7 linked regions of the Homo sapiens genome follow. The protein of the gene in region 5 purifies or fractionates together with the protein of the main gene of each other region. This does not show direct contact. Each region holds a gene or a part of one and is shown on either strand. Other genes may lie near its edges.

The links.
Region 1: the proteins of ZMYM2 (region 5) and CAPN10 purify together in Homo sapiens (affinity purification with mass spectrometry; one large-scale study listed by BioGRID and IntAct). This does not show direct contact.
Region 2: the proteins of ZMYM2 (region 5) and CHSY1 purify together in Homo sapiens (affinity purification with mass spectrometry; one large-scale study listed by BioGRID and IntAct). This does not show direct contact.
Region 3: the proteins of ZMYM2 (region 5) and HNRNPH3 purify together in Homo sapiens (affinity purification with mass spectrometry; one study listed by BioGRID and IntAct). This does not show direct contact.
Region 4: the proteins of ZMYM2 (region 5) and SFMBT1 purify together in Homo sapiens (affinity purification with mass spectrometry; one large-scale study listed by BioGRID and IntAct). This does not show direct contact.
Region 6: the proteins of ZMYM2 (region 5) and ELSPBP1 purify together in Homo sapiens (co-immunoprecipitation; one large-scale study listed by IntAct). This does not show direct contact.
Region 7: the proteins of ZMYM2 (region 5) and PCK1 purify together in Homo sapiens (affinity purification with mass spectrometry; one large-scale study listed by BioGRID and IntAct). This does not show direct contact.

Annotation. Positions count from the first base shown.
Region 1 is NC_000002.12:240,589,182-240,593,617, reverse strand, and holds part of CAPN10 (calpain-10), read right to left. Parts: intron 4,276-4,436; coding exon 4,144-4,275; intron 2,804-4,143; coding exon 2,607-2,803; intron 1,686-2,606; coding exon 1,468-1,685; intron 1-1,467.
Region 2 is NC_000015.10:101,241,480-101,245,915, forward strand, and holds part of CHSY1 (chondroitin sulfate synthase 1), read right to left. Parts: intron 1-4,436. UniProt on the Homo sapiens protein: Has both beta-1,3-glucuronic acid and beta-1,4-N-acetylgalactosamine transferase activity. Transfers glucuronic acid (GlcUA) from UDP-GlcUA and N-acetylgalactosamine (GalNAc) from UDP-GalNAc to the non-reducing end of the elongating chondroitin polymer.
Region 3 is NC_000010.11:68,335,064-68,338,563, reverse strand, and holds part of HNRNPH3 (heterogeneous nuclear ribonucleoprotein H3), read right to left. Parts: intron 1,366-3,500; 5' UTR 1,343-1,365; coding exon 1,231-1,342; intron 707-1,230; coding exon 568-706; intron 62-567; coding exon 1-61.
Region 4 is NC_000003.12:52,906,072-52,910,507, reverse strand, and holds part of SFMBT1 (scm-like with four MBT domains protein 1), read left to right. Parts: intron 1-2,774; coding exon 2,775-2,953; intron 2,954-3,193; coding exon 3,194-3,439; intron 3,440-4,266; coding exon 4,267-4,395; intron 4,396-4,436. UniProt on the Homo sapiens protein: Histone-binding protein, which is part of various corepressor complexes. Mediates the recruitment of corepressor complexes to target genes, followed by chromatin compaction and repression of transcription.
Region 5 is NC_000013.11:19,993,227-19,996,726, reverse strand, and holds part of ZMYM2 (zinc finger MYM-type protein 2), read right to left. Parts: coding exon 2,808-3,500; intron 1-2,807. UniProt on the Homo sapiens protein: Involved in the negative regulation of transcription.
Region 6 is NC_000019.10:48,021,678-48,026,113, reverse strand, and holds the end of ELSPBP1 (epididymal sperm-binding protein 1 precursor), read right to left. Parts: intron 3,945-4,436; coding exon 3,787-3,944; 3' UTR 3,780-3,786; exon of another isoform or gene 3,738-3,779; intron 1,163-3,737; 3' UTR 960-1,162; downstream 1-959.
Region 7 is NC_000020.11:57,559,343-57,564,294, forward strand, and holds the start of PCK1 (phosphoenolpyruvate carboxykinase, cytosolic [GTP]), read left to right. Parts: upstream 1-1,767; 5' UTR 1,768-1,861; intron 1,862-2,029; 5' UTR 2,030-2,069; coding exon 2,070-2,293; intron 2,294-2,728; coding exon 2,729-2,910; intron 2,911-3,353; coding exon 3,354-3,557; intron 3,558-3,685; coding exon 3,686-3,873; intron 3,874-4,222; coding exon 4,223-4,385; intron 4,386-4,826; coding exon 4,827-4,952. UniProt on the Homo sapiens protein: Cytosolic phosphoenolpyruvate carboxykinase that catalyzes the reversible decarboxylation and phosphorylation of oxaloacetate (OAA) and acts as the rate-limiting enzyme in gluconeogenesis.

The sequences.
Region 1 (4,436 bases), on a different chromosome or scaffold from region 5:
ACCCATCTGTGCACGATGCCTGGCACAGCACCAGTTCTCAAACATGCTGCACAGATGCATCTGCAACTGCCAGAAATCTAGAGAGTGTTTCTCTTGGCAAAGCCTGCTAGAGGTAGGACATTCAGATAGTGCCCTGGCTAGAAGCCCACTGGAGGCATGGAGGCCCAGGGGGGCAACAGCTCCACCTGGCCAGAGACCTTGAGACAGATGGGCATAGAAAAGAAAGAGCCAAACAGAGAGGAAGGCCACATCTGTGGCGGGGCAACGGTCTAGAGAGGAGGGTCTCCTGGAAGGACTTCAGTCTCGCCCACGCCGCGGCCCCTTGCCACCTCAGCAGGCTCCAATGCACCTCCAGTCAGTGCCAGCTGCCATCTCTCTCTGCCTGGGGGCTTCCTCTAAAGCCTGAAGTGCTAGGACTTAGCGCTACCCCACCCTGGAGCACCCAAAACCAACAGCTCCCCGAGCTAATGCCCACCAGACCAGCGCCCTCACTCCCAGGTGGGAGGCTCTGAGGCCAGCGTCCTTCCTGGCACCCCAGCGGGGCTGGCGGGGAGTACACGCCCTCCAGGCTCTCTGAACCTCTCAACGTGCTCCTGAACCTCATCTCAGGGTCTGCTTATGGGGGACCCAGACCAAGGCCTATGACAACTTGTTTCAGTTTACTGTGATATTCATATTCTTTAACCCATATTTTTAAAATAATCCTAAGTATGAAAAAAATGATAAAGATGTTCATTGATACTGCTTATAATTATATAAAACCAGAGAGATCTTAATATCCAACATCAGGGGAATGATTAAGAGACTGTGGCAAACCCGCTCATGGGGCGAACATTTGACAGCGCGTGTGTGGCAGTGTGAGAAGCGGTGCGGAAGGGAACACGTAAACCGTGCGTGCTCATGGAAAACTGAGAGCGCACTCAAAAGTCACATGTGGTTCCATCTAAGTGATTTTTTTCCTTCATTTTTTGTAGAGATGAGATCTTGCCATGTTGCCCAGGCGGGTCTCTTGAACTCCTGGGCTCCAGCGATACTCCCACCTCAGCCTCCCAAAGTTCTGGGATTACAGGTGTGAGCCACCACACCTGGCCCCTTTCATTTTTTGGAGACAAACTGTTTTTAACGAATGTTATCTATCACTAAAATAAAAAACAGGTTTTGATTTTGCCAGGTTGCCAGCTGGGCCAGGGATGGCACAGACAGTGGGCTTTGACTCGGTGCCACCTCTTCCTGCCTCGCACTAGTGGAAAGGACTGGTCAGGGGAGAGAAGGGCCACGTCCCTCTGGAAGAGGACAGTAGGGGAAGGTCACAAACTGAGGACACCACCCTTGAGAACAAGCTTACTTCTTCCCACTTAGTCCTGACAGGGCTGTGTAGCCAGTCACATAAAAAGCTACAGTGTGCCTGAGGCCTGGCAGTGGGGGGCACGCTGGCTGCAGCCCTCCCATGCTGGCCACGTGCCTCACCTGCTCTGGGGCTGAGCACGCAGCAGCTGATCAGACACTGGTCCTTCAGGTGGAGCAGCTGCCGACAAGTCCTGTGCTCCCAGCGGCCTGGCCTGTCCTGCTGGCCTCCGCTTCCTGCTACGCCCTTCAGGTTCCATCTTTCTGCCAGGCCGCCGGTCAGGTCCACCAGGGCATCCGCCACCTGCCCGGCCCACAGGTGCTCGTAGGACCCATGGACCCTAGGGGACACAATCACCATGGGAGTGAGCCTCTGGCATTGAGCATGGCCCCCTCTCTGATTCCCATGGTCTGTAGCACCCCAAATCGTCCAACCGCTGCCTCAATCCCACCTCTTTACTCCCCTCTGCCTTCTTCCTCATCCTCACCAAGTCAAGGCTTAGCCTCACCTTCAAACGCCTTACTTCACAGCAAGCGTGAGCGCCCTGCAGTCCTCTGCCCACACACAGAAACTCTCTGGCATCCGGTGTGGGCACAGGAGCAGGGCAGGAGGCGTGGAAGCTATGGATGCCCACATCCCTTGGCTCTCAAGCTCCAACCCTGCTTTTCCTAAAACAGCCCTTGGGATGGAAGGGCTCACTGGGCACTGATGTCACCAGCCAGCCTTCCCATGTTCACCAGCTTCCCTGCCTGCCTGTCAGTCCAGTTGCCTTTGGCAAGAAGACAAATGCATTCTAAGAGGGAAGGCTATTCAATTATGACTCATGGTGAGGGTCCTGGTCCCCTGAGCCAGCAAGCACCGTGATACACAAGTGTTGGTATGCTGGGGTAGCCTCATTCCTCCCCAACGACTACACAATGAGTCTGCCTGTCCCAACCACTCCACAACAAATATAAAGAAGCATCTTTCTTGCTGGGGCCGATAAAATAAGGAGGACGGCACACATGTTCTCTGTGGAGAACGACTCCACGCTGGGCTTTGGAACAAGGGAAGGGAAAGCAGGGAGTGGGCAATCCACAGGCCCAAAAGAAGAATCTCTGCACCTGGCCTGTCAGCCTGACTCACAGAATGAGCTGCCAGACCCTCAGAACTGAAGGGGGCTCTGCAGCCCAGAGTGAGCAGAGACCCTCCTGGGGCAGCCCATGGTAGTGGCAGCTCCCACTTGCCCCAGGCCAGGCCCTTCAGCCCCCAGCACACGCACTTGGCGTAGACCTTTTCCAGTAAGGGGAGCCAGAACACATCCTCCCTCTGGCAGCGGGAGAAACAGAGTCTCCCTGCAAGGCACGGCAGGCGGTCATCTGTGGTCACCTCCACCCAGCGTCCAAACTGCCAAATGCGACAGGTGAAGGAGCCCCGGTACTCCTGGTCGGCCCAGCTCGGCTGTCCCGGAGGAATGACCTGCCATGCACAGGGAGAAGCAAAAGGCGAGCGTGATATAAGCACCACCCGGCGCTACTCCAGTGTCCCGGCCGCGGTGTGGCCACAGCTGAGTGCTCCACAGGCACCGCGGTCTGCAGAGAACTCTAACGCACACCTGGATGTCGCAGAGAACTCTACGGCACACCTGGATGTCGCAGAGAACTCTACGGCACACCTGGATGTCGCAGAGAACTCTACGGCACACCTGGATGTCGCAGAGAACTCTTCGGCACACCTGGATGTCGGCGCCTGCACAGGGCTGCATCACCCACATGAAATTAACAGACCTCTCATTGCAAAACTTGAGGACCACACCGAGGGAGCCACATATCCCGGGACACACTCTGCTGCCCTCACTAAAAGCATCTGACCTGAAGCCAAAACAAATGTGACATTCAAGGGCATGAGTGACCCAGTTCTTGACCGAGCTGGCTGCAAGCAACACGTCACCACAGGAACAGCAGCCCCTCCTGCTGCTGGGAGCCTGGCGCCCCGACACTGGGCCAGCTGCTTGCACCCACAGCGTCCACCGCAGGGCTCCTTCAGGGGTAAGCATTCTGACCCAGCATCGGGGGAGTGCAGGCTGGGCACCAGGCACCTGGTGCGGTCCTGGCTCTGCCACTTTACGGCCAGAAACACAATGGCAGTGATTTTAGCACTCTCGTTTAAAAAAAAAGTCAAAGCTGGTAAGACCATGTGTCTGAAAGCCAGTGACTGTGACACGCTTACCATGGGGCCTGGGACATGAGTGAAACTCTGAATGAGGTCACACTGTTGACGCCGCTGCATTAATCAGCAACACTTAGCAACAAGCCAAGCATAAAACGGTGAACACTCCCAGGTAAGGAAAACCTGAGAAGGCCTTCTCCTCCCAGAGTATCTGTCTACCCACAGAAACAGGTTTAATAACTTTTTGCAAACTTATATTCAAAACCTGTAAGAAAACCAGCGAGCTAGCTGAGGAGAGATCTGAGGCAGAGGCTGCCAGCCAGCCCCGTCCTCCTGTGAGCTGGCACATTTGTCTCTTTATTCTAAACGTGGTGATCTGACTCCATGGAGTCCGGGGGTCAGGAGAGCACAGAGCAGGGCGAACCTCCCTGATGGAGCCTTCTGGCGAGGCCAAGGCACCCCCCCCTGCAGCAGAGGGACAGAGTGCAGTCCTCAGCCTCTGCCTTGGAACTCTCCTGCCTTCCCCCAACACAGCAGGAGATCCGGCTGCGGCACAGCTCTGCTTTCGCAAGGCCTCCTGGTACTCAGCAGGCTGGAGAAACGCAAAAAGAAACCGGCTCCAGGACAAACACAGGGAAGGGGCCCCGCACCTGGTCCAGGAGGTGCCTGCTCTTCTGCAGCGCGGCGCAGGCACACAGGAACCAGCAATCCCCCAGCAGCCCCTGCTTCACCTGCCCTTCCCGTGGGTCATCTGGAAACAGCCGGGGTGTGGCACAAATCTCCTGAGATACAGAAAGTTGTCCAGAGTTAGATCATGCCTGCTGTGGAACCCTTCAAACTAAGAACCCAAGGCTCTAGATGACAGGAGTTGGGGTGGAGCTTTTCCGATCATCAGTGTTACCCAAAAAGGGACAGGAAGGTGGTTTCCTGCAGCGGGTGTCCT
Region 2 (4,436 bases), on a different chromosome or scaffold from region 5:
TGAGGCTAACAAGCAACCAAAGAAATCAAAACATGTAACAACAGAGAATTTTTACTTTTGTAATAAAATTTTTTTATCCAACAAGAAAAACTGAAAGAAAAATGGAGTAAGATTGAGTCGTTTCAATTGTGATTTTTAAGCTTTAATAGTTATTCTACTAGTTACCATTAAAAAGGTGGGGAGATTTTCTGTGAGTTCCCCAAAATCACTATTACATGTGCTGTCTGATGGCTACACGGCAGTCAGTTTAAAAGGACTCATGATAAAATCATCTTGGAAGTTAAAGAAGGGAGGATATGGGTTTTTCTCTCTGTAGAACTGATGGATAATAGGAATTAAGGGTATATACAGCTGTTCCTTATCATCCAAGAGGGAATGATCCCAGGACCCCAAAATCCACAGACGCTTTAGTCCCTGATATAAAATGGTGCAGTATTTGCTTAAACCTTCACATACCCTCCTGTATACTTTAAATAGTCTCTAGATTACTCATAATACCTAATACAATGTAAATGCTATGTAAATAGTCGTTATACTATATTGTATTTACTTGTATTGTTTTTATTATTGTTATTTTCTATTGTTTTTCCCCCCAAATATTTTCAATCCATGGATGGTGGAATCCACAGATGTAGCAGATAGCAGGGCCAGCTGTATTTACATTCTCCCCTGTTACAGAAGGGATTTAAGACAACTTAACCAAAATCATACAGGATGAGAAAAATCAGCAAGAAAATGAGACCAAAGAAAAGTAAGAGTAGGAAACCCTTACGCAAGGAACGAAAGGCAAATCCTGGTGGAGGCTGCCCTGCCCAGGGCAAACCCTGACTCAGTGAGAGCACTCTCAGGAGCCACCACTTCAACTGCAAAGTGCTCTTGTGCTGAGACCTACCTGCCATCACGTGACCTACGGATGTGCTAGTGGTGGGCCCAAATTCAGCTACAAACTTTTCAGCAGGCAGCCATGAGAAGTCACGAGACTGTGTCCTACTGTTCAGGGTTAAGTGTAAAAACATACTAAGGCCTGAGGGAAACTTCTCCCAAGGTCAATGATGGAGGTATCCTTACAGGAAGTACAGTGTGATGGAGCAGCAGTCCAAGTTCATCCTCCAAGAGAGTACACGGAGGGCACCACTCTATGCTGCCAGCCAGAGCCACAGCCTTCAGAAAAGGGAGGGGTCTTTCAAGGCCACCAAGTGATGCCACGGGCCTCTCCTCGGCCGGAAGGAATCCCCTCTGGCAGGATGTTGCAAACACTGTTCAATCCCTCATCTCCATCTTCTGCCTTGGTCCCAAAAGCTCTGCAGCAAATGCATTCAGCTGCAGTTTCCCACTTCTGTGCATGTGGTTTCCGGGTATGTGGTTTCCTCTTTCAAAACCTTTAACTGTCTCATCGTGCACGTCCTTATGACCTGTCCAATCTCAAACCCTTTTTGAAAGGAGGTGGGAAAATGTAACAGAGGCTGTGAATGGTGGGAAAATTATTTTAAAAGAAAAACCAAATTATACTCCTTACTGTCCATCCTAAAAAATAGACTTGAGGGGAAAGCAAGCAGTAAAGAGCCCTTTTTTTTCTTAATTAAGCTGTTGGCAGGGGGGATTACAGCCTCCCACTTCAACAATGGCCTGGGCACAAGCCCAGACGGCATTCCAAGGTATTAAGAGCTACGAGGAGCCCGCCCTTTGAGCCCAGGTTCACGGCAAACAATGGGAACAGAGACCACAAATAGGCCACTTTTGAAACATCACAATTAAAATTTGGAGTGTAAATGACAGAAGACGAATTCTGATCTCATGAGACATTTCCAAAGCTTGAAAGTGTTGGAGAGCTCCTTTCATAATTTGCATATCGCTGCTGTATCCTTAAAAGTATAAATATGCGACTAATACTTAATGATCCACATGAACCAAAAATCAGTATCGTTTAATGCAAACAATTAAACCACCCTGAACTTGTTCTGGCCGACCACTTTGCAAATCACCGTCTCCCTGAACTGAGGCACCGTCCTCTATAAAGCCCACCTAAACACAGTCACCAGCCACCCTGGCCCCACAGCCTCCACACTGGCTTTCCATCCCACACACGCGCCTCCCAGGTGGTCACCCACATCACTTTTCCAGGCTCACGGACACTGCTAAGGCTGAACAAACAGTCATCGTGGATAAGGAGACCAGCCTTACACACACTTCAACCACTTTCAGACCCACTCCCAGCATGCATGGCTTGGCGACTTGAAAACCTGGACAAAACCTGCCGGTCAAGGACAACTTTGCAGTGCTTGGGCTGGATTTAACTGAAGGCCAGACAACTTGATTCCAGTGTTAGCTTCTGAGGCCACATTCTGTGTCTGGATCCGTGTGCGCCTCTAAATTGTGCCCAATTACCTGCAGACACTGCCATCAGTTACCAAACACGCCGAGCAAAGTGTAACAGTCTTTGCGCCTATGGTCCACCTAGAAAACCACAATTTCAATGGCCTCAACACCTACAGTCAATAATCCTCAGGCTTTTGGTTTACAGGCATCAACTTGACACCACATCAGAGCAGACTGGACCTTATTTGTAATCATCCAGAAAATGTATTTGTCTACAGAAAAAATGCTGCAGCTATAAATGCTTCAGAGATGACACTGAATTCAGGTGAGAAGATGGACAGCTTTTATGCTTGTAAACTGTAGCTAGGTTTTCTTGTTCACCCAATGCCATCCGGAACCAGAAGCCAAAAAGGCCTCAACAACAGGTGGAAGCACTGAGTATTTACATTAAGATACAAAAGCTGAGGCCCCTGCACTGAAAATGCTGCCACCAGATCCTCCCCAATGTCACCTGGAAGCGTGAAGTTACAGTAACTGAGGAAAACGGTTGTGACACTAACCAAGTAAATGTGTGCTAAGCTAATTCTGTCACTTCAGGACAGAATTAATGGTAACTGACTGAAACGAGAACGGGCTGCAGCTCTGTGCCTAGCGGACCTCCACACCAGCAGCCTAACGTGCTCAAAATGGAATGCAGTTTCTCTTAGAGCTGACATCTTTTTGTGGTTTTACTGTAGCTTTATTACAAAATAACTGCTTACTGTAGAAAAACCAGAATATATAGAAAAGAGCTAAGAAGAATATAAAAGATCACTTGGCATCACAGTGAGTACATCCTTTGATGTTTCCTTTTCTATGCTACACAAACATACACTTTTGTTTTACTTTAAACACAGAAGGGCTTTGTACTGGCCATACTGTTTTACAGTTTACTTTCACTTAAGTATATTCTGAACCTCTCCTCATGTCAATAAAAGTATTTCAGCCACACCATTTTTACTTGTTAGAGATGCAGACCACAGTATGGATGAATCAGTTAAGTCAATTTTGGTCCTTATCTCCTAAAGCAGGACACCTAAAATACCTGAAATTTCCACTTCATATGTACACATTTAAGCACACCTTTAAAATTCCTTTGGAAAAAATTCTAGAGCAATTGCCAGACCTCAAGAGAGCTGCATTTTAGACTTCTTGATAAATGCTACCCAAGCGTCCCTCAACAGGTACCGGTCCTGTCCAGCTCTAGCTAGGTACCGGTACTTGACCAACTCTAGCCACCCTCTGCAGCAGCAACACCGCTGGGCTGATCTTCCAAAACACACATCCCATCAGGCTACTGTCCTGCCGAAATGTCACCAATAGCTCTGGACAGCAACCACACAAAGCCTGGCACGCAGACCTTCCCTCCATGTCCCTGCCCACCACTCTACCACCCACAGCCTACACCTAGCCCCAAAGAGCTGGCCTTTCCCATCGCTCCTTCACTAACTCCTGCCATTTCATGTTGTAGGAAACCTGTAGTTGTCTCTGCCTCAAAAACACCTCTTCATCTTCCAAGACTCAGCTAGTGGGTAAAAAAAGGGTGGGAGTGTGGGTGAGACATTTCTTGATCCATCACCCACTGGGTGTAAGCCTCTTTCTTCTGCTCCCCCACAGTGATTAGTTCACGCACCCTGACAGCCCTCATCAACCAATACCATCGCTCGTTTCCTTCTGAGACAATGAACTCTGCAGAGACTAGGGCCCTGTATTTGGAATCTACTGTTAATAAAGAGCAGCTTAGTTAACAGACAGGGGAACGTGAAGCTGCCGGTGCAATGGAAACAGTCACGCACAATCCGCTATTGACAGCCACATCTATCCCTGGAATCAATCCGCTATTGACAGCCACAGCCATCCCTGGAAATCCCTGGAATATTGTTTGAGCGCTTCAAGATCTTGAACCTGACATAAAAAACTACACTCATTTTCAGAGCCACATGGTTCCCTAGTCTCCTACAGGAAATTCACGATCTGAAATGACTTGGTGCTCCAAAAGTTCACTTACAGGTTGATTATTTGGATTTTACATGGAAAAGCCTTCTGTATAAATGTTTGCCAAGTTGAATTCTATCTAAGAA
Region 3 (3,500 bases), on a different chromosome or scaffold from region 5:
TCTTGGTGGATCATAAAATCCTTTGATTTCACTCCTGCTACTTCTGAAGATCTCAATATACCTATTTAAAAATGTTTTAAGGTACAGGTTTCAGCATAAATGTATTAGTGTAAATTAGATACTGGGCAAAATGCAGTAAGTTTTTCTATATCTAGATACATAACCCAATTTAAATTGCCTAAATACACCGTAAGTTAACAGTTTAAACCTACAAACTTAATTAAATATTTAAGTTTTACAAAGAAATTAGTCACGGAAAACAATTCATAAAGTATATTTTTACTTTGTCTCTTTTAGTACATAATAGGTGTTTTAAAGGAAATAGGTGATTATACAAAAGCATTTATCAACAACATCCTACAGAGAAATGGAAACAATCTAATTTTAATTTAACTATTAGCATTAATTCCCCACCCAAATCTGTAGTTTCCAAGTTAAATTTAGATAATTATCAATTCTTTTAAACTACCCCAGAAAAATGTTATGGCTACCCCCCCATTTAAGCAATAGTGACCCACAACCCCCAAAAATAAAAATTTAACACCATCCCAAACTCTCCATCCCCACCTGTGCCCTATTCTTTCCTTGTGTTTCCCCAGAGCATTTTCTGCTATCTCCTTTGAAGCAAACTGCACGAAGGCCTCCCCTGTGCTTCTCCCCTGGTAGTCCATCGTCAATGTTATCCCATTTGGCACGATTTCCAACCCTTTAACCCAAGGACAAATAACCCCATCAAGGGGAACAGTGTTAAAGGCTGAAACATTCCCATCTGAATCAAATATTTAAAACAAGTCTAAACAAAACAAAACAAAACAAAAAAGCTTAGTTTCCCATCACCCCATAATACAAATGAAAGATTTTTTCAAATATTACTGGATTAAATAAATTTTTTGCGACCAGTGTAAAAACACTGTGTAATTACACACTCTAAAAGCCCACCTATATTACATGAAAAAAGGCTACAAAATCAAATATATGCTCCATATACTAATTCACGGTTCATTTCATCACAATTCTCAAATATGTTACTGCACATTAACTAGGTTTTACATATTCTACACATTCTGTATTGAATATTAACTGGAGCATATTATTTTAATACATTAACCAAGACTATCATAGTTAAACTTAAAAGTTCCAAAATCAAATGGGTTTTACAAATTAAAAACAGTAAAACAATACAAATATAAAATTACAATACTACTAAACTTTGACTAATACTAGAGGTACCTTGAAAGAACTGAACTATTTCCTCTTTGCTGCAACCAAATGGTAGTCCACGAAGTCGTACTGTCCCATCACTAGCGTCATTTGGACCATTATGTTTCATAACCCAATCCATCTCAATACCGTTTGATTTAAATGCTATAAAAAATAAACAAGCACATAGAGCAGTCAATCAAAATATACTCTTGTCAAGAGGTAATGAAGAAACACCTCTCAGAGGTGCCACAAGAGGAAATGTAACATGGGGCCAACTGCTGTGACAATGCCACAACAAAATTGTAGACCACCTTTCATATTTTGGGGTACGGAAAAGGCAATGAGACCTGACCCCCTCCTACGGAAAAGTACTGAATTTCGTAGTATCAATATTATATATTGCCTAATTTTAAGAAAACTTGCATAATTCTACTACCAGAGTCTTCAAACTATTTGTGTCCCCTGAATGCCAACTCTAGCCTTTCCTTATCTCTCAAATTTTCATTCACCACTTTTCAGGTTTTTATTCAACTGATTATTCAAATTCTTTAAAACTTATTCAGAAGTTGCATATAATACCAGTATCCACTAACATCAAGAGCCTAAGTAAAAAAATGCAATGAGTACTGATTGACGTTGGACAAATATCACAGAAGTCTAACCCTTTTAAATGCACTACAATTTTGAACACATCAAACTGTCTTTGAAGGGCCAACACTCCCACCTCTATTTTAGCCAAATCTAGTTTAAACTCACCAAGAGCAAGATTATAAAATGACTGAATTAATCAGATTAAAACTGAGGTCAAAGGCCACTCAAAAGTGAATGCCTTCCAACAGTACCTGTGTTTTTGAAGCCACTGGAGACAGTGTTTAGAAACCAGTTTACTCAAATTTTTAATCAAATAGATTTAAACAAACTTTAATAGGTAATATACTTTTTAATAAAGCATAAAAGGTACATCTAGAAGCCCCCCTTCCCCTCCAAAATAACCTCAGTTCCCAGTTCCCTTCCCCAGAGGCAACCATCCTTCCTTTTAAAATTCCATAATATTTACAAAAGAGGTGAATGCAGAAGTCCTTCAGCTGCAGAAACTTACCAGAACCTTACAAATCTCACTATGCAGCTGTAGGAATCCTACTCACCTGAGTATTTCAAACCTTTCCCTCACCACCTCCTCCCCTGTAAACAAAGTTTGTTCATTTGATTCCTTTATGTTTGAAGATCATATTTCGTATCAACAGCATTCACTAATGCTTAATTTCATGTCATCTATTTGTTGGTGCATCTCTTAGGGGTGGCATCTGCAAAGGGTAAAATATTTTTCCCTAGAATTCATGCACTTAAAATAAGCTAATGTAGAAATTCTCTGGAAGTAGTTAAGTACCTCTAGTGTCAATCACCTTCAGCCCTAGGTGCCACTCTAGACATAGAAAACCAAAATGGGAATACAAACTTTTAACTGACATTACAACTACTTGTTATGCACACAAATAAATATTATGAATGTTCTGGGTCTGAATCCCTACTCTGCCACTCACTGGCTACCTGAACCACTTTACCTCTGAGCCTCTTCAATTGTAAACTATAGCAGTTGTACCTGTACCTCACTGGACTATTCAAGTGCTTGGTCTGCCTCATGGTAAGCATTTACTGATGGCAATTGTTACTGGACTTTAAGGGGCCCTGCAAAAGCCAGTGAGCTATACCATACACAAAATATGTGAACCCTGAAGGACAGAAAACAATTCAAGCCTTGAAAAGAACTGAGAATTATTAAAAATTTTATTTCCCAAAGCCAGCAAAGGCTTTTATAAGTTTAATACTATTCTAAAGAGTAGCTCTGAGAGGAGGCGGCCCCAATCCAGTTTGGGAAAAAAAAAAAGTTCAGAGATGTTTTGAAAATGCCTACCGTTTTATTTATTTTTTTTAAATAGCACCAACCTAAAAAACAAGTGTTTCCCATAAACGGTGATTTACACAGAACGGAAAAAGTGGTACAGATCTACCCTCACTGCTTCATGAAAAATTGAAGAACTCTGCAAATTCGACCTTAATCTGTTGTGAGAGGATCTTAGTGGTACGATTTGCATTTAAGGAGCAAATGCTTAAAAAAAAAAAAAAAGAAAAGAAAAAGAAAAATTAATTTACCCATAAATCTTAGCAATTCACAGGAAAAAATTACTAGCAAGCCAATTGGATTTTTGGATCAGTCTGTACCAATGATAAGACCCAATGAAAACAAAAAAAGTGTTATCAGTGTTATCTGTAAGAAACACTAAACTGTTAACACAATT
Region 4 (4,436 bases), on a different chromosome or scaffold from region 5:
CTCCAAAAAAAAAGAACCCTTTAAAAAATGTAAGGGTAATTTTTGGCTTGGGGGCTATACCAAAACAGGTCATGGGCCAGACTTGACTCATGGGCTTTAGTGTGCCAACTTTTATATATAGCATGTATATAAATTAGTTATTGTATCTAATAGGATATGTAATTCATTCATACAATCTGCAAGTATATATTTTGTGCTCATTGTGTGCTTATGCTGCTCTAGCACTGGGATACAACAATAAAGAAAACAAATTCCTATCCTCAGTGAGTTTACCTTTAATGTGGGAGACAGATAACAAACAAGGGAAGAAATTTAGAGAGGGGTCAGTATTTAGAGAAATACTGTGGGGAACAGTGAAGCAAGGTGGGCAAGCAAAATAGGACAGTGAGGAAGGCTGGGAGGTGGGGTGCTGTTTATGCAAGGGGTCAGGGAAGTCTTTCTGACAGGTAACACCTTGAAGGAAACAGGAGCCAGCTGTGCAGAGAGCTGGGTGGGAGTGTTCTGGGGAGGGGGCATCAAGGGCACAGGCTTGAGGCAGAAGCTTGCTTAGTGTCTCTGAAGAGCAGCAATGAAGCCACACTAGTTGGGGAGGTGGAAATAGGAGAGGAGGTAGTTGCAACCTCACCTTGAACTGTCATAGCACCTATTCGCTGTCCTTGCTTATCTTCTTTGAGAAACTGGGGCAGGGGTCACATAGGATGAAATTTACAATTTGGAGCCTTGTCAAGGCATTGCCACCCAAAGACAAAATTCTGATCCTACCTTTCCTTAAATCCTACAAGCCCTATGTCACTTGGGAGAATCACTACAGAGGAGGATTTTTACCTTGTTAAAATGGAAAGATTTCTTTTAGGGATCTGTGCCTCTTAAACTATAGTGCATGCAGATCACTGAAGGATCTTGTTAAAATGGAGCTTCTGATGTATCAGGTCTGTGGGTATCTGGGTCCTGAGTATCTATCTGCATTTCCAACAAGTTCCCAGATGCCACTGATGCTATTGATCCAAGGTCCATACTTAGTATGACGAGCTTTCTAATCAGTATTTAAATTACAAAATCTTATAAGTCTAACCTTCTAGTTTCTATTTATATTTATTGGATTGTAAACTCCTTAAGAGTAGGAATTATCTTAGCTTCTTGTATCAGACTCAGCACTTAGTTTAGGAAACTGCAATTATTAGGAGCTGAGTGAAAAATACTATTCATGTAAATGCATATATAAGCACACTACTCTGAAGGAAGATATGTGAGGGGAAGATATGTGGATTTTATTGTGCCTTTTGTCTGAATTTATCTTTCACAATAATATAGTTGAAATTAGCCTAGAATTTAGAAGGACAGTTATAATTTTTCCCAGTTAGTAATTTGAATGATGTCAAATGGATTCGTATCCTTTAGAAAATTTCCATTTTTTTCACAAAATTGTATTATATTTTGATATTACTTTAATACATAACTCAGCTAGAATATGTATGTTTCATTTCTGGAATGTATATTCTAAAATTTATATGAAAATGCAGAGGATCTAGAATAGCTGAAACAATTTGGAAAAAAGAATAAAGTTGGAAGACTTAGTCTCTCTCTTTTTTTAACCATAAAGTTATAATAATCAAGAGTGTGGCATTAAAGAATAGTCAAGCCGGGTGCGGTGGCTCACACCTGTAGTCCCAGCACTTTGGGAGGCCGAGGCAGGCAGATCACCTGAGGTCAGGAGTTCAAGACCAGCCTGACCAACATGGTGAAACCCCGTCTCTAGTGAAAATACACAAATTAGCTGGGCGTGTGGTGGCAGACGCCTGTAGTCCCAGCTACTCAGGAGGCTGAGGCAGGAGAATCACATGAACCCAGGCGGTGGAGGTTGCAGTGAGCCAAGATCACGCCACTGCACTCCAGCCTGGGTGACAGACTCTGTCTCAAAAAAATAGAACAATGGGACAGACCACAGGGTCCAGAAATAGAGCCAAACTTAACATGGTTAAATGATTTTCAACAAGAGAGATGAAGAAATTTAAGGGAGAAAGGAAATTCTTTTTAACAAATAGCACTGGTACAACCAGATATCCAAATAGAAAAGAAACATATAATAAAACACACGACTCAAAAACATTATGCCTAGTAGAAGAAGTCACACATGGCTGCTGGACGTGGTGGCTCATGCCTGTAATCCCAGCACTTTGGGAGGCCAAGGCGGGCAGATCATGAGGTCAAGAGATTGAAACCATCCTGGCCAACATGGTGAAACCCCGTCTCTACTAAAAGTATAAAAATTAGCCGGGCATGGTGGTGTGTGCCTGTAATCCCAGCTACTCAGGAGGCTGAGGCAGATGAATTGCTTGAACCTGGGAGGCAGAGGTTGCAGTGAGCCGAGATCGTGCCACTCCACTCCAGCCTGGCGACAGAGCAAGACTCCATCTCAAAAAAAAAAAAAAAAAAAAGTCACACACAAAAAAGTGCTTACTGTGTGGTTCCATAGAGGCAAAGCTAATCTATAGTGATAGTGTTTAGAATAGTGGCTGCTTCTAGTAAGGGGTACTGACTGGGAAGGGACCATGGGAGCTTTCTGGGTTGAAGATGTTCTATATACTTTGATATGGAGGGATCATTCAGTACTAGTCAAACCGTGCACTTCAGATCTGTTTATTCCACTCTATGGAATTTAAACCCCAATCAAATACAATGTACCTGTTTTTTGCTATGCTAATAAAATCTCTTGTGGTTTTGAGGTACACAAAAATAATGAAGCTACTTCATTTTTCTTTGTCATCCACATTTAGCACACTATTACGGAAAGAAGAAAAATAAAAGAATTGGGAGGCCACCTGGTGGGCATAGTAACTTAGCTTGTGCCCTGAAAAAAGCCAGTAAGAGGAGAAAGAGGCGGAAAAATGTTTTTGTTCATAAGAAGAAACGCTCCTCTGCATCTGTTGATAATACCCCAGCGGGCTCTCCCCAGGTATGAGATCTGTGATGTGCCTGTAATGTCTTGAAGCCAAGTGACCACTGCTTTATAGTATGGACACAGAATACCTGCAGGTCTTTCTAACTCAGATCTCTGGCCAATAGAAGATGGTTTTGTGGCCCAAGAACTGGTTTGTCCTGAATTTCTTTTCTTTCTTTATTATTTTTTTTTAATCATATGAAACCTGGGATTGATGTCCTGAATTTCAATGAGACTTCTCTCCTTTTCCTGCAGGGAAGTGGGGGTGAAGATGAGGATGACCCAGATGAAGGGGATGATGATTCCCTAAGTGAAGGCAGTACATCCGAGCAGCAGGATGAGCTACAGGAAGAATCAGAAATGTCAGAAAAAAAGTCATGCTCCTCTTCTCCCACCCAAAGTGAGATATCCACATCGCTGCCTCCAGATAGACAAAGGAGAAAAAGGGAGCTTCGCACCTTTTCATTTTCTGACGATGAAAATAAACCTCCTTCACCAAAGGTACCATTTAAAAAATAGTTTCTTTTTTCTTTCTTTCTCTCTGGAATTTCCATCTGGAATATGATTATTAGTGATATTGACATTCTACTTCTTTCAATACAGACTTATGTAGAATTTCCAGGGTCTCTTGTAAAGTGACCCCAAATGCAGTGATTTACATGTGTTTCAAGGATTAGTTGAGATCATCTACTTATAGGGGGAAAGTCTCTCTCAGAGTAGCTGCTTGTTTTAACAACAACAACAAAAAAAGCCCCATTGCTAGCTTATTTGTAGCTTGTCATTTATTTTTGGGAAAACTGCCTTTTTAATATGTTTCATAATATATATGGTTTTGTAGAAAAAAGTTATCCTTTTGATTCTGGTTAAGCCATTTGGCTTAATATATTATTTACTATATACATATGAACATTTTATAACATATGTATAACACTAAAGAACAATTTAGTGTTCAAAAACTAGATTGCTTTTTAAGAATATTCCATGAACAGAAGCAGTAAAGATTCCTCCTGGTAGTTTAGTTAAGCCTTCTCTCAATGGAATTATCATCCCCTTCTCTTCAGCACCCTGTTTTTCTTAGTTAAATTGTCTAAATTATCTGTGCTGGAACTTTGAGATAAATTCTTTCCCATTGATACTTCGTATTATAAAAGACAGACATTTCCTGAGTACCTGATGCACGTGGGTCTTTGCCATCTTTGCTGGGAGAAATCATGTCCTAAGACCACTTTAAATCATGTCTTGAAAGATTATGAATTTAGGTAGAGAGACTTTTTTAGAATAAAATAGCCGTAACACCATTTGGTTTGATTGTGTTGTGGGGAATGAAGGAAATAAGGATCGAAGTTGCTGAAAGGCTTCACCTGGACAGTAACCCCTTGAAGTGGAGTGTGGCAGACGTTGTGCGGTTCATCAGATCCACTGACTGTGCTCCATTAGCAAGAATATTCCTAGACCAGGTAATCACAGATACCTATAATTTTTAGTAATGTCTCTTTAG
Region 5 (3,500 bases):
TTTGTTTTTTGAGACAGAGTCTCAGTCTGTCGCCCAGGCTGGAGTGCAGTGGTGCAATCTCTGCTCACTGCAACCTCCGCCTCCCAGGTTCAACAAATTATCGTGCCTCAGCCTCCCGAGCAGCTGGCATGCACCACCATGCCCCACTAATTTTTGTATTTTAGTTGAGATGGGGTTTCACCATGTTGGCCAGGCTGGTCTCAAACTCCTGACCTCAGATGATCCGTCCACCTTGACCTCCCAAAATGCTGAGATTACAGGCTTGAGCCACCGCAACCAGCCCTGGCTAGTTTTTTTTTTATCTTTAGTAGAGACAAGGTCTTGCTCTGTTGCCCAGAGGCTGGTCTGAAACTCCTGAGCTCAAGTGATCCTCCTGCCTTGGTCTCCCAAAGTGCTGGGATGACAGGCATGAGCCACCATGCTTGGCACCAGCTCTTGTTTTAAATTATAGATTTTCTAAGCAGTCTTCAATAATCAGACATTACTCGACAAATAAGAAAAATAACTAGCAATTCATATAGCATTCTACATTGCCTAGATTTTAGTTACTTCACATTATTCTCCACAATCCCTAGGATAATGAGCCTAAAATGATGACAGAATGGGTCAGAGAGAGGCATGTGAGAGAGAAACGCCGATAGACACACACACACAGAGGAATTGGGGGAGAGGTTAAAGAGAGAGAGAGACATCCACAGACATGTCATGAAAAAGTCACAGAGTTTGTTTTGTTTTTGAGACAGGGTCTCACTTTGTCACCCAGGCTGGAATACAGTGGTGCAATCCTGGCTCACTGCAACCTCTGCCTATGGGGCTCAAGGAATCCTCCCACCTCAGCCCCCCAAGTAGCTGGGACCACAGGTGTGCACCACTATGCCTAGCTAACTTTTCATATTTTCAGTATTTTGTATTTTTTCACCACGTTGTCCAGGCTGGCACAGAGTTCTTATCACTTCCATATTTTAAAGTTTTCACAGAACAAGGCTGCTCACAGAAAACAATTTCAAATAGTCAAGAAAACTATCAACCTTCAAAAAAAAAGGTGGGGGGCTGGGTACAGTGGCTCACACCTGTAATCCCAGAACTTTGAGAGGCCAAGGCAGATGGATCACTTGAGGCCACGAGTTCAAGACCAATCTGGCCAACATGGTGAAACCCCGTCTCTACTAAAAATACAAAAATTAGCTGGGTATGGTGGCACACATTTATAATTCCAGCTACTAGGGAGGCAGAGGCTGCAGTCAGCCGAGATTGCACCACTGCACTCCAGCCTGGGCGATACAGCAAGACTCTGTCAATAAACAAATAAATAAGAAAAAAAAGTATTGCTTATTTATGCCCTTGAAAAATAAAAATAATTTTTAAAAATTTTTTAGTAGTAAAATGCTAACTAAAAGCTAAAGATACGTGGTCAAAAATAAACACGGCATTATCGAGTTGTAGACATTAAATATATACAGCCTTTTGCATGTCAATCATAACTTTAAAGTAGTTTTAGAAAAGAAAAAAAGGATGATATGTTTGGCTTTCTTCAAATGTGAGAAAAATAAAACCTTAGCCAACTCTTAATAAAAAATAAAATGGCTGGGCATGGTGGCTCATACCTAGAATCCCAGTACTTTAGGAGGCCAAGGCAGAAGGAATGTTTGAGCCCAGGAGTATAAGACCAGCCTGGGCAACACAGTAAGACTCCGTCTCTACAAATAATTTTTTTTTTTTTTTTTAATTTAGCCAGGCATGGTGGCTCACACCTGTGGTCCCAGCTACTCTGGAGGCTGCGATGGAAGGATCACCTGAGCTCAAGAAGTCGAGGTTGCAGTGAGCTGAGATTGTGCCACTCTACTCCACTCTGGGCGACAGAGAGAGACCCTGTCCCAAAAAATTAACTAATTAATTAAATTAAATAAGCACAGGGAAAGTAGAAATAAATCTAAATGCGGCCAGGTGCAGTGACTCACGCCTGTAATCCCAGCATTTTGGGAGGCTGAGGTGGGCAGATCACCTGAGGTCAGGAGTTTGAGACCAGCCTGGCCTGGCCAACATGATAAAACCCCATACAAAATACAAAAATTAGCCATGCGTGGTGGTGGACGCCTATAATCCCAGCTGCTTGAAAGGCTGAGGGAGGAGAATCGCTTGAACACAGGAGGCGGAGATTGCAGTGAGCCAAGATTGCGCCACTGCACTCCAGCCTGGGTGACAGAGCAAGACTCCATCTCAAAAAAAAATCTAAATGCAACTACTGTACAATATTACACTGTTCTTTAAGTGTGCTATTATATTAATCTTTTGGTTCTCTAATTTATATACTAAAACACTAGTAAAAATTCTATTAGCAAAAAGTAATGCATGACAAACAAGATATTAAATTATCACACTTCATTCTTTTGTTTGTTTTGCTTTTTAAATTTAGAGATGGCGTCTCGCTATGTGGCCTAGACTGGTCTCGAACTCCTGGGCTCAAGCAATCCACCCACCTTGGCCTCCCAAAGTGCTGGGATTACAGGTGTGAGCCGCCGTGCCCGGCCAAATTATCAGACTTTGGTGATGAATGTAAAGAGTATTTTTTTCTTAAATCCTTTAAATATAAAACTACTTTATGATTAACTTTTTAGTAATCCACAGAAAAATACTATACATGGTTTTACAATTCTTATTAAAATACCAAACTTAAGATAAAATTCAATATAATTCACATATTTCACATGATGAAACTAAACAAGGTAATACCAGTTACTACAATGAAAAAAGCAGCAGCCAAAAGTTTAAATTCATTTACATGAAGTAGAGTATCTCTTACTGCTTACCAGGATTATGATGAGTTGCAGATTCTCCATTCTGAAAAACGTCTCCTGCCACATTCATTCTACCAGGATTAAAAGGTCCTACTCCAGTCTTGGTCTGTGAAGTTAAAGATGGGGTGTATGTTTGTATATTAACACCAAAATTACTTGACTGCAGTCCGTTAGAGACATCTCCCAAGTTGGTATTCTGCAGTGATGTTACATGTGTAATCATTAAGTTCATATCTCGCCCGTCAGTATTTTCTAATTGGCCATCATTCACAGAGCTTACACCTGTTTCTAAAGTTGTAACATTAGCAATCTGAATTTCAGAGTCTGGTTCTGTGGTGATACCACTATTACCCATTCCTGCATTTACCTTACTTCTTGAAAAACTGGAAGTGGAGAAATCCACATCATTGGTTCTGTTTTTAGTCTCAGGAGGTCTTCGTTCAATAAAATTGGAGGAATTTTTCTCTTGCCCTTGATTTGTTTCCATGTCCTCTTCATCATCAATGACAATTGTCTCACTTACACTTCCCTTCTGAGATGCCAACTCTTTTGAGGAAGGAGTAATTTTGGAATCATTTCCTTGTAGTTCTTCATTTTTTGATGATGTAAATGTTATGGTTCTTTGATCAGCTACCACTGGTACAGAAGGTGGGGGAGGTTGTACAGGTTCGATAAAAACAACATCATCATCATCTTCCACTGACG
Region 6 (4,436 bases), on a different chromosome or scaffold from region 5:
CTCTTTTTGAGTTATCTCACTTGGACTGGAATAGCCAGGCCTTTAAACCCAGCATTGGTCATTCGTTAGTTGTGGCCTACCCTGGGAAGGGCATGGTTTGGGCGAGGGAGGCCATTTTGAAGCTGAGACCATCTCTGATTTGGGCTGAACACCAAAGGCTGCCTGCAGACAGCACTCACTGGAGCTGGGCAGCAAGTCCTTTCTTGAAGGGGGATCTAGGAAGCCCACGTCTATCTCCATCACAGGGGCAATTCCACGGACAATGAGTGAAGGGAGGAGGAGACTGCAGGAAGACAAGGGGTAAGAGAATTCCAGCACAAGGAAGACACGGAGGCGGGGGGAGGAGGAGGAGAGGGAGAAGGAGAGGGAGGAGGAGAAGGAGGAGGTGAAGAGGGAAAAGGAGAAGGAGAGGGAGGAGGAGAAGGAGGAGGAGAAGGAGAGGGAGGAGGAGAAGGAGGTGGAGAGGGAGGAGGAGAAGAGGGAGGAGTAGAAGAAGGAGGACAAGAGGGAGTAGGAGAGGAGTAAGAGGAGACATGGAGGAGAAGGAGGAGAAGATGGAGGAGGAGGAGAGGGAGAAGAAGAGTGAAAGGAAGAAGAAGAAAGAACAAGAACAACAATGTGAATTTCCATCTGGGCTGAGAGGGAATCAGATTCTGTAATCAGTTCTTGATATCTGCCATGGGCACAGGGAGGGAATGGTTGAGGCAGTCTTGTGGTGAATTTTCTACCCTCTGTTTACTTCCTAATTTATTCATTAATAATTTAATATGTATCTACAAACACCCCACCCAAATCTGTGATTTCCCTCAGAAGACAGAGCAGGCTGTAATGACTCCTAGAGGTCCCTGGCCTGAGAGTCTGACCTCTCCACACTATGAGACTCGACAGCCTGGCTACCAATCTTTCCTTCCCCACACATTCACCATCGGTCTCATCTTAGGAAGCAGAAAAGGCAGATCCCAGGGTTAAATCAAGACTCCTTTATTGGTGGTTATGCCGCATTCTCTCTACGTTCTTCACAAAGGACCAGCTGATTGAAGCAGGTGGTGCAGAGGGTATTTCTAAAGGTGGTTATTTAAGCTTGACAGATGCAATGAAAAAGACAAATCTGTGCTCAGCCTCAGTATGGCGGCAGTCTTCCTCTGAAGATATTTCTCCTTTCCTTGAAAATAGAAGCAAAGATCTGAGTTTAATGAATAAGTAGGCATTGACTCAAAGAGGAAGGTGAATTAAAAATGACTTTGTATTGGTTTTCCAGACTTAGTCGGAAGCAGCTGAGCTGAGAGGAATCAGACGCCCCCACCCCCACATCCCTGCCTAGCTCATAGGAGCAAGGAGATCAATGAACAATGAGCTCCTCAATCTCACCTCTATGCTAAGGGGAAGGGGACCTGCAAAGTGCCAGTTCTGCTGTGATGGACAGAAGTCAGAGGCTGGACGCTGTTCCTAGTCCTAGCCACAGACTGAACGCCACTGTGGGTGTTTTTTAATATCTACCCTGTTAAGATGGTGCCCAGAGTTCCAAACCCCCTCCTTTCCCTCTCCTCTATTCCAGGAAGATGATTTTCATTACCAAGGCAAAATTCAGGAAGGGCCCGCTAATTTAGTGTCATCCATAAGCCACATGCATTGTAAGGACAGACATTGCTAGAACCACCAGGGTTTTCCACCCCAAAGGGAGGAGGGATGGGGTTTTGTCTACACATCTGATGAAAGGGCTTCTCTTTTTTTATTTAGATTCCAGAAGTCACAGAGCAGTGAGGTCAGTTGATCCATGCGGGAGATTTAGAGACCATTTCTACAGGCTGGAGAACATCTTTCAAGCTTAAATAACCACCTTTAGAAATACCCTCTGCACCACCTGCTTCAATCAGCTGGTCCTTTGTGAAGAATGTAGAGAGAGGAAAAGACTAGAAGAAAAGGAGGGATAGGCCAGGTACAGTGACTCACGCCTGTAATCCCAGCACTTTGGGAGGCCGAGTTGGATGGATCACCTGAGGTCAGGAGTTTGAGACCAGCCTGGCCAACATGGTGAAACCCCGTCTCTACTAAAAATACAAAAAAAAAAAAAAAAAAATTGCTGGGCATGGTGGCACACCCCTGTAATCCCAGCTACTCAGGAGGCTGAGGTGGGAGAATTTCTTGAACCCAGGAGGCAGAGGCTGCAGTGAGCTGAGATTGCACCACTGCACTCCAGCCTGGGCGACAGAGTGAGACCCCGTCTCAAAAAAAATAAATAAATAAAATAAAGAAAAAGAAAAAAATAAAGAAAGAAGAAAGAAAAAAGAAAAAAAGAAAAGAGGGATAAAGTTGGTTCTGTGGAGGTACTTGATGACCAGCGGGCTGAGGTGGGGCAGGAGGCCCAAATGGTGAAGGAAGAGAAATAAACCCCATTTTTCCCTTGGTCAGCTACTCAGTGATGGGGGCAATGGATGCACACCATGGTGTCTTGGCTTCTGGGTTATCCTTCCTTTCCTTGCTTCCTTCCCTCCTTCCCTTTCTTCCCTCCCTCCCTCCCTTCCTTCCTTCCTCCCTCCCTTCCTTCCCTTCCTTTCCCTTCCCTTTTCTTCCTTCTTTCCTTCCTCCCTTCCTTCCTTATTTCCTTCCTCTTTTCCTTCCCTCCCTCCCTTCCCTCCTCCCTTCCTCCATTCCTTCCCTCCTCCCTTTCCTACTTTCTCCCTTCCTCCTTCCCTCCCTCCCTCCTCCCTCACTTCCTCCCTCCCTCCTCCCTCCTTTCCTCTCTTCCTTCCTCCCTTCCTTCTTTCCTTCCTCCCTCCCTTCCTTCTTTCCCTCTCTCCTTCCTTTCTTCTCTCCTTCCTTCCTTTCCTCCCTCCTTTCTTCTTTCCTCCCTCTCTCTACCTCCTTTCTTTCCTCTTTCTTCCTTCCCTCCCTCCTTCCTTCCCTCCTTCCTTCCTTTCCCCTCCGTTCTTTCTTCCCTCCCTTCCTCCTTCCTTCCCTCCCTCCCTCCTTTCTTCCCTTCCTCTCTCTTTTCCTCCCTCTCTCTTTCCTTCCTTCCTTCATCTTTCTTCCTTCTTTCCTTCCTTTCGTCCATCTTTCTCTTTTTCTTTCTTAGACAAGGTCTCACTCTGTTCCCCAGGCTGGGGTACAGTGGTGTAATCATAGCTCACTGCAACTCCTGAGTTCAAGGGATCCTCTGACCTCAGCCTCCTGAGTAGCTGGGACTACAGATGTGTGCTATCACACCCAACTAATTTTTTTTTTTTTTGTAGAGACAGGGTCTTGCTACATTGCCCAGGGTGGTCTCAAACTCCTGGCCTCAACTGATCCTCCTGCCTTGGCCTCCCAAAGCACTAGGATTACAGGTGTGAGTCACCACAGCTGGTCAGTTATCCCCTTTTCTGGGTTGTTTTTTCATACCATGCTCCACTTTGAGAAATTCCACTTTTCTAATCATCAACAGCCAAAGCCTCCCAGACTTGAAACTTGGAATGATACCTTCCTGGGTCTGAAAAAGTTTGCCAATCCCCCTCTGCTCTCCTGCTTCTGGGGGAAATCCCAATTTCTTTCATCCTTCTAATCTGGGGAGTTGTTCCAGTCTTCCCCAACTCCACCTTATCTTTGACAACAGGAGCCCGCATTGCTGGGAACCTCAGCTAATCAGACATGCTGGAAAAGCAACAGATCTCGCCTTCACATCAGCGACGCTAATCAGACACGCTTGAAAAAGCAGATCTCGCCTTCGCATCAGTGACACACCAGTTGTGCACCTGTCTCACCTCTGCATCCGTGAAATGACCACTGTTGGTCCCTGCTCTCACCTCAGCATCAGCAATACACCCAGGTGTGGTCTTGGTCGTAGTTGTAAGAAGTTGCACACCACACAAGGTTCTCCTTTGATCCTTCGTTAGTGCAGTTAAAATAATTCTTGTTTTTATAGTTGAACGGAAAGTGACAAGGAAAGCCAGGGACCAACGCGGAAATTCCTAGGAAGCAGAAGGGGATAAAACAAAGGTTACTCCTCAGGCTTCACACTGTCGTAGAGGCGTGGGCTTCAGGCCCACCCTAGATTTCAAATTGGGGCTGAGTGTGGTGGTTCGCGCCTTTAATCCCAGCATTTAATCGCGCGCATTTAATCCCAGCTCAGTTGTGAGGCTGAGCCAGGAGGATCATGTGAAGCCAGGAGTTCAATACCAGCCTGGGCAACATAGTGAAACCCCGTCCCTACAAAAAAAATTTTTTTAATTAGTTGGGTGTGGTGTATGCCTGTAGTCCCAGCTACTCGGGAGGTTGAGGCAGGAGGATTGCTGGAGCCTGGGAGGTCGAGGCGGCATTGAGCCATGATTGCACCACTGCACTGTAGCCTAGGTGACAGATGGAGATCCGGTCTCTAAAATATAAAATGTGGCTGCGCTTTGTGGCTCATGCCTGTAATCCCAACACTTTGGGAGGCTGAGGCAGGCAGATGACTTGAGGTC
Region 7 (4,952 bases), on a different chromosome or scaffold from region 5:
AGGTACTCAAACCTGTTACCGTTTTATCAGCAAAATGGGACTTTCTACCAATTTGGTGGGATGAGTCTCGCCGGGAGTGATGTGTGTGTCACGGAATTGTGGTCATGCATCGGGATGGCTAATTCACTGATGTCAGATGCTAACGAAGTGGCCTCGGCTACTGAGCATCACGTCACTGTTGGGTTTAGACACAACACGATCTTATGTATGGATGACAGCACCACTAATAACAAATGCCAGTGACCTAAACGGGGAATAACTTCAAATGAAACAAAAAGCACCTCATATCATATTTATCCTGAAAGACACAACTGGCTGAATAAAATCTGAATACAGGAAACATAGCAATGGGTTGATAATTTTGGTGGAACTTGATGATGTGTGACCCACGCCCAACACAGTGTGACCCAAGCCCCCAGGAGGGTTCTCTAAGTGAGTTTGGTCGGAGGCTGCCATTCACAGTGACTTGTATTTGCCACAGCAGCTCTTTCTAAGCCCAGTCCTGGGATTATCTCAGGGATCATCCCACACCCCAGCGGGGAGATGGGCCAAGTCCCCACCTGACCTCATCTTAGGTAGAGAGGCTTCCATGGAAGTGTGGGCTGGCTGTGGGGGGTTGAGACCTAGCCCCGTTCTTTTGACATTTCACCCTGTGTTCTCCAAACTCCAGCAAGCAGCTTCCATAGCTCATTAAATTTGACTGAAGGTCTGATGGCTTGCAAAGCAAATTCTTTACAACTGTTATAAAGGTTTCATTGCTTAAGCATATAATCTAGCAAAACTGCCAAGCCCCCTCCACTCCCTAAACTCTAAGACTTGCCAGGGAAGAGAACAGTGGCCAGTGGACTGCAGGAGTAACTGCACTCAGCCCAGAACTCCCTGGAGGACACAGGGAAGGTTCTGGAAAGGTGGCGGTACCTCACAGGGAGAGACGTGGTGCTCCAGGGCCCAACTTGCTCATGTTCAGATCCTCACTCTGCAACCCACCAGCCGGCTGTGAGTGGCTACACAATCTCTGCCTCAGTTTCCCTATCTGTACATGGGTTGTTCATAGCCTCCACCTCAGAGGGTAGTAATGATGCCAAGCTCTTAGAACAGTGCTCAGCATGTGTGCATCCTGTGCCTACTCTATGCCAAGCACTACAGAGAGAAAAATGAACAAAATAGGGAGAAATCCCTGCCCTCATGGAGTTTACATCGGGGCAGGGGGCGGGGGCGGCACAGAGCAGACAATCAATACAGTGATTAGCCCCCAGTTAGGTTAGGCATTTCCAATCTTTGCCAATAAGCCACATATTTGCCCAAGTTAGGGTGCATCCTTCCCATGAACTTTGACTGTGACCTTTGACTATGGGGTGACATCTTATAGCTGTGGTGTTTTGCCAACCAGCAGCTCTTGGTACACAAAATGTGCTGCTAGCAGGTGCCCCGGCCAACCTTGTCCTTGACCCACCTGCCTGTTAAGAAAAGGGTGTTGTGTTTTGCAACAGCAGTAAAATGGGTCAAGGTTTAGTCAGTTGGAAGTTGTGTCAAAACTCACTATGGTTGGTTGAGGGCTCGAAGTCTCCCAGCATTCATTAACAACTATCTGTTCAATGATTATCTCCCTGGGGCGTGTTGCAGTGAGTTGGCCCAAAGCATAACTGACCCTGGCCGTGATCCAGAGACCTGCCCCCTGACGTCAGTGGCGAGCCTCCCTGGGTGCAGCTGAGGGGCAGGGCTATTCTTTTCCACAGTATTTAAAGCTGGGAGGTTCTGCCACCAAGCACGGCCTTCCCACTGGGAACACAAACTTGCTGGCGGGAAGAGCCCGGAAAGAAACCTGTGGATCTCCCTTCGAGATCATCCAAAGAGAAGAAAGGTAAGTAGAGCTTTGCATTTACATTTTGAAAAATTACAAAGATGAACTCATTTTTTTCCTGAGAGCAATAACTATTTGGCAATGCACAGCCCTGGCAAAAGGCCGTCGAATGTGTTTGAAGGTGTCTGTTGTTGTTTTTGTTCAGGACGCTTGCGTTTTCTATTTCAGGTGACCTCACATTCGTGCCCCTTAGCAGCACTCTGCAGAAATGCCTCCTCAGCTGCAAAACGGCCTGAACCTCTCGGCCAAAGTTGTCCAGGGAAGCCTGGACAGCCTACCCCAGGCAGTGAGGGAGTTTCTCGAGAATAACGCTGAGCTGTGTCAGCCTGATCACATCCACATCTGTGACGGCTCTGAGGAGGAGAATGGGCGGCTTCTGGGCCAGATGGAGGAAGAGGGCATCCTCAGGCGGCTGAAGAAGTATGACAACTGGTAAGCTCGGCCCCCGCTGCCTGTCCCAGCACCCTGCAGGCAGGGCTCCCCTGCGTCTCCTGGGAGTTGGTGGAGAAAGGTGAATGAAGGCCTTCGGGTAGTTTCAGACTCTTGAGAAGATGAATGCAATGGTCAGAACCATACAGACTTGAATTTTGTGACATTAGTGGGCCAGCCCAAGCTTTAAATGAGGTGTGTGCACAAAAGCTCTGCCAACTAGATTCCTGATTAAAAAAAAGGCAGCCCCTCTCCTACAGACCAGGTCCTAGTGGAGTAAATGTCCACCTGGCCATGTCTTAGATGGTCTGTGTGTTCACACTGATGGACTGTTGTTAGCGTGCTCAGCACTCTGCTAGGCATGGAAAGCCACGGTACTGAAGGAGATGGTTCGCTGCCCGTGGTGCTTGGCTGAAAGGAAGCCTGTGATTTTTGCAGCTGGTTGGCTCTCACTGACCCCAGGGATGTGGCCAGGATCGAAAGCAAGACGGTTATCGTCACCCAAGAGCAAAGAGACACAGTGCCCATCCCCAAAACAGGCCTCAGCCAGCTCGGTCGCTGGATGTCAGAGGAGGATTTTGAGAAAGCGTTCAATGCCAGGTTCCCAGGGTGCATGAAAGGTGAGCGGAACATTGATTTGATTGGGTAAAACAGCAGAGAGCCTTTTCTTATTTACATCTATCCTAATGGTAATTCAAACAATAATGGAAGCTCCCACCACCTCAGATGTCTTTCAGTTCCATACATGAAGTTGGCAATGTATTGAAAATGCACATCCCTCTTCTGCTTTTACAGACTGTCTTATACAAACGTGAAAACTAGTTCCATGCATATGGGTTTTAAATAGCTTGGTGGGACCCAATTGCACATTTATGAAAACTCTTTAATTTCAGCAGGCTGTTCACTTTCCAGTGGCCTCTTCTAACCCAGGGGGCTGGTGACCAGCAGGGTGTGGTGGTGTTAGTGGAACACCGTGAAAATGGGTCTACCTGGGAAAAAAATGCTGGTCGTGTTCGAAGTCCAAGGTCATTTCTCACCAGTGCCCACCCATCGCACCCTGTAGGTCGCACCATGTACGTCATCCCATTCAGCATGGGGCCGCTGGGCTCGCCTCTGTCAAAGATCGGCATCGAGCTGACGGATTCACCCTACGTGGTGGCCAGCATGCGGATCATGACGCGGATGGGCACGCCCGTCCTGGAAGCAGTGGGCGATGGGGAGTTTGTCAAATGCCTCCATTCTGTGGGGTGCCCTCTGCCTTTACAAAGTAAGTGTATTATTTCAGAATCAAAAGTCAAAATAAAAAAGAAAGCTGAACGCAAACCCCAGTGAGTGCCTCGGGGACCCCCAAGCAGGGCCCTGGCGCACTGACTTGGGAGGGGTCCTTGTTCACAGAGCCTTTGGTCAACAACTGGCCCTGCAACCCGGAGCTGACGCTCATCGCCCACCTGCCTGACCGCAGAGAGATCATCTCCTTTGGCAGTGGGTACGGCGGGAACTCGCTGCTCGGGAAGAAGTGCTTTGCTCTCAGGATGGCCAGCCGGCTGGCCAAGGAGGAAGGGTGGCTGGCAGAGCACATGCTGGTGAGCCTGCAGGAAGCCCTGATGTGCAGATGAGAGGCCTGGGGGGTGGCAGAAACAAACAGCATTACAGTTCCCACCCGTCAGCACACCTCTCTGAGCGTGCAGGTTCCCGGACAGATCGGGAAACCCCACCAGTAATGATTAGTTTACACATATACATCGCTTTTGAAGGCCCCCAAACACCAGGGGACCATAGAGATCCTTTGGACTTCATGATTCTGGGAGTGTTTGTTTGCACTGATACCTGAAGAAATAGATCTTGAGGGCCTACATTCCAACCTCTGGGCTGAAGTACCAACCTCGGGGAGAAGGAAACAAAGATCACAATAAAGAATCTTGTCCCCAACAGATTCTGGGTATAACCAACCCTGAGGGTGAGAAGAAGTACCTGGCGGCCGCATTTCCCAGCGCCTGCGGGAAGACCAACCTGGCCATGATGAACCCCAGCCTCCCCGGGTGGAAGGTTGAGTGCGTCGGGGATGACATTGCCTGGATGAAGTTTGACGCACAAGGTGACTCTTTTAGACCCAACTCTTGGTAACGATTGGACTCAAGCGAATCGTTGGCCTTCGAAACATGTCACATTCTCCTCAGTCCAGTGTTTGGATTTTTAAACTCTGTTAGTCCAGAGTTGGCCAAGCCTTAGAAATATGGATCCTGTAAGAATTCTTCAACTTAATATTCAATCTGGATTGAAACTGGGCCATATGTTGCTGTTTGTTTACATACATACATTTGTTTAAATGGTATTGGTGGAAAATTGTGGAGGAAGCAAGAGTCGTAAACGTATCAAAGTTGCATATGATGCTTGGATGAAAAGAGATAAATGCATATTCTAGGGAGGGAAAAAAGATTTGAGAAGTTGGCATAGAAATTAGTCCGGCAATATATAAGAGTATATGTTCTGCTTTGCCTGGCACTCACTACTGCTTCTCTGGTTTAAAACTCTCCAGGTCATTTAAGGGCCATCAACCCAGAAAATGGCTTTTTCGGTGTCGCTCCTGGGACTTCAGTGAAGACCAACCCCAATGCCATCAAGACCATCCAGAAGAACACAATCTTTACCAATGTGGCCGAGA